Regions from separate parts of the Homo sapiens genome. Here all the other regions are linked to region 2. The links come from fine-mapping of genetic effects on gene expression. A gene starts in region 2. Each other region holds a variant in brackets. All regions are shown on one strand. Distances are from middle to middle. Region 1 has its middle 88 kb from the start of CYSLTR1. Region 2 holds the start of CYSLTR1 (cysteinyl leukotriene receptor 1). Region 3 has its middle 100 kb from the start of CYSLTR1.

Evidence for each region. PIP is the estimated chance that this variant, and not a neighbour inherited with it, causes the effect.
Region 1: its variant is the best candidate, but not a certain one, in a credible set for the expression of CYSLTR1 in whole blood (TOPMed, PIP 0.54).
Region 3: its variant is the best candidate, but not a certain one, in a credible set for the expression of CYSLTR1 in visceral fat (GTEx, PIP 0.84).

Annotation. Positions count from the first base shown.
Region 1 is chrX:78,414,484-78,416,983 of GRCh38, forward strand. No RefSeq gene overlaps it. Among named protein-coding and RNA genes, the nearest start is that of CYSLTR1, 88 kb to the left of the region's middle. The variant G/T (reference allele first, on the strand shown) is at 1,135.
Region 2 is chrX:78,326,151-78,328,650 of GRCh38, forward strand. It overlaps CYSLTR1 (cysteinyl leukotriene receptor 1), which reads right to left and starts at 1,461. Exons shown (of 3, transcript NM_006639.4): 1 at 1,155-1,461. RefSeq lists an enhancer at 1,633-1,682.
Region 3 is chrX:78,427,830-78,430,619 of GRCh38, forward strand. No RefSeq gene overlaps it. Among named protein-coding and RNA genes, the nearest start is that of CYSLTR1, 100 kb to the left of the region's middle. The variant G/C (reference allele first, on the strand shown) is at 1,528.

The DNA of each region.
Region 1 (2,500 bases), 88 kb after region 2:
TTGGAAATCATTCTCAGTAAACTATTGCAAGAACAAAAAACCAAACACCGCATATTCTCACTCATAGGTGGGAATTGAACAATGAGATCACATGGACACAGGAAGGGGAATATCACACTCTGGGGACTGTGGTGGGGTGGGGGGAGGGGGGAGGGATAGCATCGGGAGATATACCTAATGCTAGATGATGAGTTAGTGGGTGTAGTGCACCAGCATGGCACATGTATACATATGTAAGTAACCTGCACAATGTGCACATGTACTGTAAAACTTAAAGTATAATAATAAAAAAAAAAGATAACTTCAGTGGACTGCGGTCAGCTCTGGGTCTTGCAGAGGCTCTTAGATTCTGGGAAGAAACAGGAAAAAGGGTGTTGAAAATAACAATCATGCATTGGTCTTTAAGGGGAGTCTCTGTCTCCTTGGCTGAGACTTTTTGCCTTAACAAAGAAAAGCAAACCTCAACATCTTTAATATATTCTAAAGGAAGTTTCAATAACATGTGAGATGTGGGTTCTTGCTTGCTCTCTTTCTGTTTCTTGTGTAAAACTGGAACTGAAAACTATCCTTTTGTATTAATTAGCCAGGATTTTCTCTCTCTCTCTCTCTCTCTCTCTCTCTCTGTCTCTCTCTCTTCTTAAATAAAGGTGCCAATTACTTTGAGAGTTATCAGAATGTTTGTGTGAGTCTTATATTGTTTAAAGGTGACTTCTTAGACTCTGTTGAGGAATCTAGATGTGCCTGTCAAATCATTTATTTATTTACTGAGGCAGAGTCTCACTTCTGTCACCCAGGCTGAAGTGCAGTGGCATGATCATGGCTCACTGAAGCCTTGACTTCCCAGGTTCGGTAATTTTCCCACCTCAGCCTCCAGAGTAGTTTGGATTGCAGGTGCATGCCACCATATCTGGCTTATTATTATTATTATTTTAAGTAGAGATGGGGTTTCACTATGTTGCTCAGGCTTGTCTCAAACTCCTGAGCTCAAGTGATCTGCCTGCCTCTGTCTCACAAAGTGCTGGGATTAGAGGCATGAGCCACCATGCCTGGTCCTGTCAATATATTTAAAATAAACTTTCTCAAACCTCCTCACATAAATATAAACTGCAAGGGTGCTCCAATATAGTTCAAATA[G/T]AAATCATTCATTTTTTTCTTTAGCTAAAAGAAAAACTGTGAAACATTGCTGAACTTAAAGGTCACATGTTGATCAACCCTTCCAAACGATACAAAGGTAGGTGGAGACACTCACTTCTTCATGAAGGAGACTGAAAGTTACAAAGGCATAAAATATATTTAGATCCCCTGAGATTCTCTGTTGAAAGCAATTAGAAATCAGTCACACTTTATGTAAACCAGGCATTTAATTATCAGGTACAGAAGATACAAATTAGGCAAAGCAAAAAAGGAGAGTTGCAAGAACTTAATTTAGTAGGAATCCTTGTGAGGAGATTAATGAGATGTAAGGGAACATCGATCTCATTACGTTTGTAGATCTGAGGCCATAGACTTTCTAAGCAGCTTTCAATCTTGTGGATTGGATTTTGAAAACATTTTTTAACTACAGAAAGATATACTAGTAAACTTGGGACTTTTTCTGATCAAGTTGCTATCATTGTAACAAACATGAGGGATGGCCCCTATATGGAGTGTACAACAATTTACTTGGTCATAAAGTAATAAATACTTGAGTCGAGTATTTATTCATCTATTACATAAAGTAACCCCAGTGACAAGGAAGAAAGCAGTCATAATAACCAGCAGTTAAAACCCTGTACTTGTGAACTCTACCTGCAAAAATGCCTAATAAGAGTGACATTAGCAAGATGGCAGACTAGGAATCTCCAGGCCCTCATTTCCCCATAGAAATATAAAATAAACAACTAGAAATTGGCTAAAATTATTTTATAGGAGTGCTTGAAAAAAGTCAAAGATATATAGCAATAAAGTGAATGCATATTTAAAAATTGTATTAAAAACAGTAGAATATGTTGCAGCATTTTTCCTCACCCTTGTCTCCCTAACCCTCACATTCCCAGGCTCTGGCACAGTGCAGTTTGGGAGAAGCATCAGCCAAATCCTCAGATCCCTATTCCCTTTACAATTATTGGAGAAAGCAGAGCAGACTGAACTTTCTAACCTGTCTGTGGGTTGTCCAAGGGATTGGTCTCTGTGTCAGCTACTCAGAAATTAGAAAATATTTTGAGACAAATGAAAATTAAAACACAGCATACTAAAACTTATGGGAGGCAGTGAAATTAGTGATAAAAGAAACATTCATAGCTGTAAATATCTACATTAAAAGAGAGGATCTCCAGTCAATAACCCATCTTTAGATCTTTTAGAACAATAAGAACAAACTAAACCCAAAACTAACAGAAAAAAGGAATTAACAGAGACTAGAGCAGAGATAAACAAAGGGGAGACTAGGAAAACAGTAGAGAAAATCTATGAAAAGTCAACAAAATTTACAAGACTTTAGCTATACTGATGAAAAAAAAGG
Region 2 (2,500 bases):
TAGCACTTGAGGTTGTTTATGATGTAAAAACAGATAGCTTTTAGTTCTAATTGAGCCATTAATAGTAAAACAACAACAGAAAACATTTCTGAATGATTAAGACTTCTGTAATAAAGTTAAAATTGTCTTGTAACAAATTTTCCTAATGTATTTTAAATGTAATACAGTCCTTTGTATTTTATAATGCATTGTAAAAATATAAATATTTTTGTTTTTAAAACAGTGTACAATCTAGTCCAGATTTAGTTACAATTTCTTTTAAAATAATCATTTGTTAGACATATGGTATCATAGTTTCTCTCTAGGTTTCAAAATAATCAGAATACTGGAAAGCAGAACCACTGAATTCAGTAGGTGGAACTTACAAACCCATTTGTTTCCTCTTGAAAACAGCCTTTTTTGTCGCTAAGTAGAAAAATGTTCCTGGCTAAAGATTTTATTAAAATGTATGAATCTTTGGCTCTGTGTAAACTTAGTCTACACCAGATGTGTCTGAGTTACTAAATAGATCATGCAATTTTCTTCTATTCATTTATAGTTGAGAGAGCTTTATTTTTACAGTCTCTGGCCAGAACTGGCCATTTTCTAGTTGTACGGTGTGTTTCAAGAAAATTTTTTAGCCTCTCTGAGTCAATTTTCTCATTCATAAACATGGACAGTAACACCTACCTTGTCTAAATTATAGGATGTTGAAAGGTTCAGGTGGGATAACAAATGTGAAACTACCTTGTGAAAATTTTACTCTCCACTGGTTTACCTTCAGTAATTACTACATATTTATTTTCCATATTGAAGGAAAATGTCACTACATTAGAGAAACTCCACTGAACCCTCAAAATGGGGATTTGAAAATGTATCTTACATTTCTGGCTTAAATTACAAAGGCACAGGAGGTTTGCGGAGTGTGTCTCCTCTGTATTTTGCCACGTTGAGCCCTAGCAGAAGCACTGAGCAATATTTGTTGACAGACTGATCATATTATCAGATTTCTGGCTAAGAAATAAAGCAGAAAGAATTCATACTAGCACCCAAACTTAAAGCAGGCAAGGCAGATAACTTATCCCCAAACTCCTGGGAATTTGCTAAAATTTACCATCAGCAACATTTTACTACATACTGTTCTGGTCTTAGTACTGAATACTGAGTCTCCTTACCTGCTAACTTCAAGGTCCACAGTTTACTGTCCTTTTGCGTTTGTTCTCAGAAGCAAGCTCCAAGTCTTCAGTAAATTCGATCTACCAGTCCTTGCAATTAATCCTTGTTGGCGAGCTGCACAGTATCTTGATACCCTGTAGGGTCGTAAAAGCACAGTCCATTCACAGAGTGCCTGCTCTATAGGCAAGCTTCTTTGCAAAGATGGGTTGCTGCTATTTTTAAGAGGGGAGAGAGCAGGGCACATTTGCTAGCCAATATATACAGATATACAGATTCTTCTTCCTCTTTCAGATTAGCCTTCAAACTGTTAAAGCACTCCCGGAGTCTGACTTCTCTGGTGCAAAGTGGGGGAGGGGAAGGGTCAAAGAGGAAGGAAGAATAGAAACTGGAGACTTGCAGGTTGCGTGTATGTATAAATAAACTTTTCTTCCTAGCTTCAGGAATAGAATTCTCAGGAAATTATTCAGCTGCTCTAAGATGGGAAGCAGGGACGAGTGTTCTCTCTTCAGCTTAGTTCTCTGTGATTTCTGTGACTGTGAGGTCATTAGACTATTTGTAGGTGGGGAAAGATAATCCTGCCAGTATATGCTAATATAACTGGCATTATGTGAAACTTGATCTTAAGTAACATAAATTTCATCTCTCCGTTTCTCTCTCTCTCTCCTTAATGACACTTGTGGCTCTATCCACATTCTAAAAAGCCTTTTCCTTTCTGGTTCCTTTTTGAGCTTTGTTTCCTGAAATCTTCATAACAATAAATTGCCTCCATTGGATTAAAACTGTTGTTTTCTTTTTTTGTCCCACTGAAGATGATCTGGAATGACTGGGCTTGCTGTCAATGGTCCTGTGTTGGAAATTTGGGGGATCAGGCAAGTGTTCTTGGCCTTTGGCTAGGCTCTGAGGTGTTAGAGCTGTGGGGTGCTCAATATGGCTTCTGGAGAAAAGGGACATAGCAGTCTGGTATGTGCTGATTGAAGCCTGGGGCAGCACTTTGATGTTAAAAACCAAATTGGTAAGATCATGATGTGAATTTGTTACATCAATTATCTTGAGTTATATTAAGAAGATTCTATATGGAGATGGGCATAAATATGTTGATGTTAACACTTTGTAAACATGCCCCATAACTAACAACTAGTTTTAGGTACTTGTAAAATATGAGCCCAGCAGTAGCCTTCTGGCTTGCTACCTGCTGTAGGAACAAAGTCATTTACTCAAATTTTGTATCTTTAGGTACAAGAATTACCTCACAACCAACCTGGGACAATCGCTTTAAGGCCCTTGAATCTTTATCTCTTTTCACAGAGTTCTGGATTGTGGTGGTGATGGTGATAGTTGGAGGAAA
Region 3 (2,790 bases), 100 kb after region 2:
ATGTGATGGGCATCATGATTGGAATCCACAAAGATCTCAATGTCGAGTGGAATTTAACAAAGTAAAATTAAATAAGGAAAAAGTAAAATTCTGAACTAGATTTGCAAAAGTCAACCCTCAAATTTATTTATATACTCTCAAACTTACCAAAGTGCTTGCAACATAGGAGACGATATATATTAAGCAAATAAATGGTTAATAAAATATGGGAAATGACATGACTTTTTCCTCTCTCTTTTATTTGTATAAATTTAAGTTGTACAAGTGCAGTTTTGTTAAATAGATATATTGCATAGTGGTGAAGTCTGGGCTTTTAGTATAACTATCCCCTGAATAATATACATTGTAACCATTAAGTAATTGCTCATCTCTTTCACCCTTCCGAGATTCTTATGTCTATTACTTCACACTCCATGCCCATGCTTGGACATAATTTAGCTCCCACTTACAGGTGAGAATATGTGGTTTTTGATTTTCTGTTTCTGAGTTACTTCACTTAACACAATGGCCTGGCTGAATAGTATTTCGTGGTGTGTGTGTGTGTGTGTGTGTGTGTATACCACATTTTCTTCATCCAATCAACCATTGATAGACACACTTAGATTGATTCCATATATTTGCTGTTGTGAATAGTGCTGTGATAAACATATAAGGGTAGGTATCTTTTTAATACAATTATTTCTTTTCCTTTGGGTAGATAACCAATACTGGGATTGCTGGATTAAATGGTAGTGTTATTTTTAGTTCTTTGAGAAATCTCCATACCATTTTCTCTAGAGGTTGTATTAATTACATTCCCACCAACAGTGGAAAAGCATTCCCTTTTCCCTGCATCCTTGCCAACATCTGTTATTTTTTGACTTTGTAATAATTGCCATTCTGTGTGGTGTGAGATAATATCTCATTGTAGTTTTAATTTGCATTTCTCTGATTATTAGATGATTAGTGATATTGAGCAGTTTTTCATATGCTTGCTGGCCATTTGTATGTCTTATTTTGAAAAACGTTGGTTCATGTCCATTGCCCACTTTATAATGGGGTAGTTTTCTTCTTTGTTATTGTTGAGTTGTTTGAGTTCATTGTAAATTCTGGATGTTAGTCTCTTGTCGAATTCATAGTGTGCAAATATTTTCTTCCATTCTGCAAGTTTGTTCACTCTGTTGATTGTTTCTGTTGCTGTGCAGAAGCTTTTTAGTGTAATTAAGTCTCATTGTCTATTTTTGTTTTTGTAGCATTTGCTTTTGAGGTATTAGCCATAAATTCTTTGCTAGGCCAAAGTCCAAAAGAGTTTTCCCTAGGTTTTCTTCTTGGATTTTATAGTTTCAGGTCTTACATTTAAGTCTTTAAATGATCTTGAGTTGGCTTCGGTATATGATGAGAAATAGTGGTCCAACTTCATCCTTCTGTATATGGCAATTCAATTTTCCCAGCACCATTTATTGAAAAGGGTGCCCTGTCCCCAATATATGTTTTTGTTGACTTTGGGAAATGATGTGACTTAATGGCAGCTTGTGTGGAAAAGTTTCA[G/C]GAATTTAGCTGACTACGGCTGAATGTGAATTTATGTGGTTGCCGAAAATGCAAAAGAGAGAGGGAGGAAAGAAGGAAACAGAAACTGAACAATTTTACATTAACAAATACATTGTGCTCAAAATCAAGGGAGGTGCTCTTTCTATTAATTCTATGTCAGTCTGGACTGACTGAATAGAATTAGTAGAAGGAGCACCTTTCTTTATTTGGAGTATAATATTGATGTTGAGATACCACACTCTAAAAGGAAGTTTGGCAAACTAGGGTACATCTAGACTAATCTAATCAGGGTCATGAAAGGGCCAAAAATAATCTCAAATGAGAAATAGTTGATGGAATTGAACATATTTAGTCTAGGAAGGGGGAGTACTAAAGAGTATATAATGTCTGTTTTTAAATACTTTAAAGGGCTATCATTGGGAAGAAGGAGCAGGCTTGCTCTGTATTTTCCTGAGTAAGAACTATGTTCAAGGGTAAAAACTATAGAGACAGATTTTGACTCAATATGGGATAATGCTTTCTGCTAGTTAACACTGTCTATAAAATGAAATGGGCTGGGTGCGGTGGTTCAAGCCTGTAATCCCAGCACTTTGGGAGGCTGAGGCGGGTGGATCACGAGGTCAGGAGATCGAGACCAGCCTAACTAACACGGTGAAACCCCATCTCTACTAAAAATAAAAAAAAATACAAAAAAAAAATGAAATGGACTGCCGATGAAGTACAAAGTTCTTTGTTTCTGGAGGAGTTTAATTAGCTTCTGGATGGCCATTTGTCCAGGAATTCATAGAGGGAGTCTGTGTACCCCAGTTATTAGGGAATTGGATTGGGTGACTTAAGATCCATTCCAACTAAGATTTGATGCTTCCATGAAAGCAATTGGTTTATAGCAAACATCATATATCGTGTAGTGGAAAAATTCCAAGGACCATGAAGAAGTTCTAGTAGAAGTACCCTGAATCAAACTGACTATGTTCCCACAGACAAGGAGTTAGTATCCTCTAACAATTTAAGTCTTAACAAGAACATTATGTATACTAACTTGGATCAGAGCCAAATCTAGATACTTTTTAGCCAAAAAAGCATAAATTCCACAGTTATTTAACACCCAGCCTCTACTGTAGCCTGAGTCCCCTAGCACACTACTTCTGTGGCAAAGTACATATTGATGGCAAGGCTCTGCCTCAATGCCCATATTAGAGCGCTTAAAATCTCTTCAGTGTGGCAACTCTTAAACTTCACTTCATTAAGGAGAACTTGTCAAAT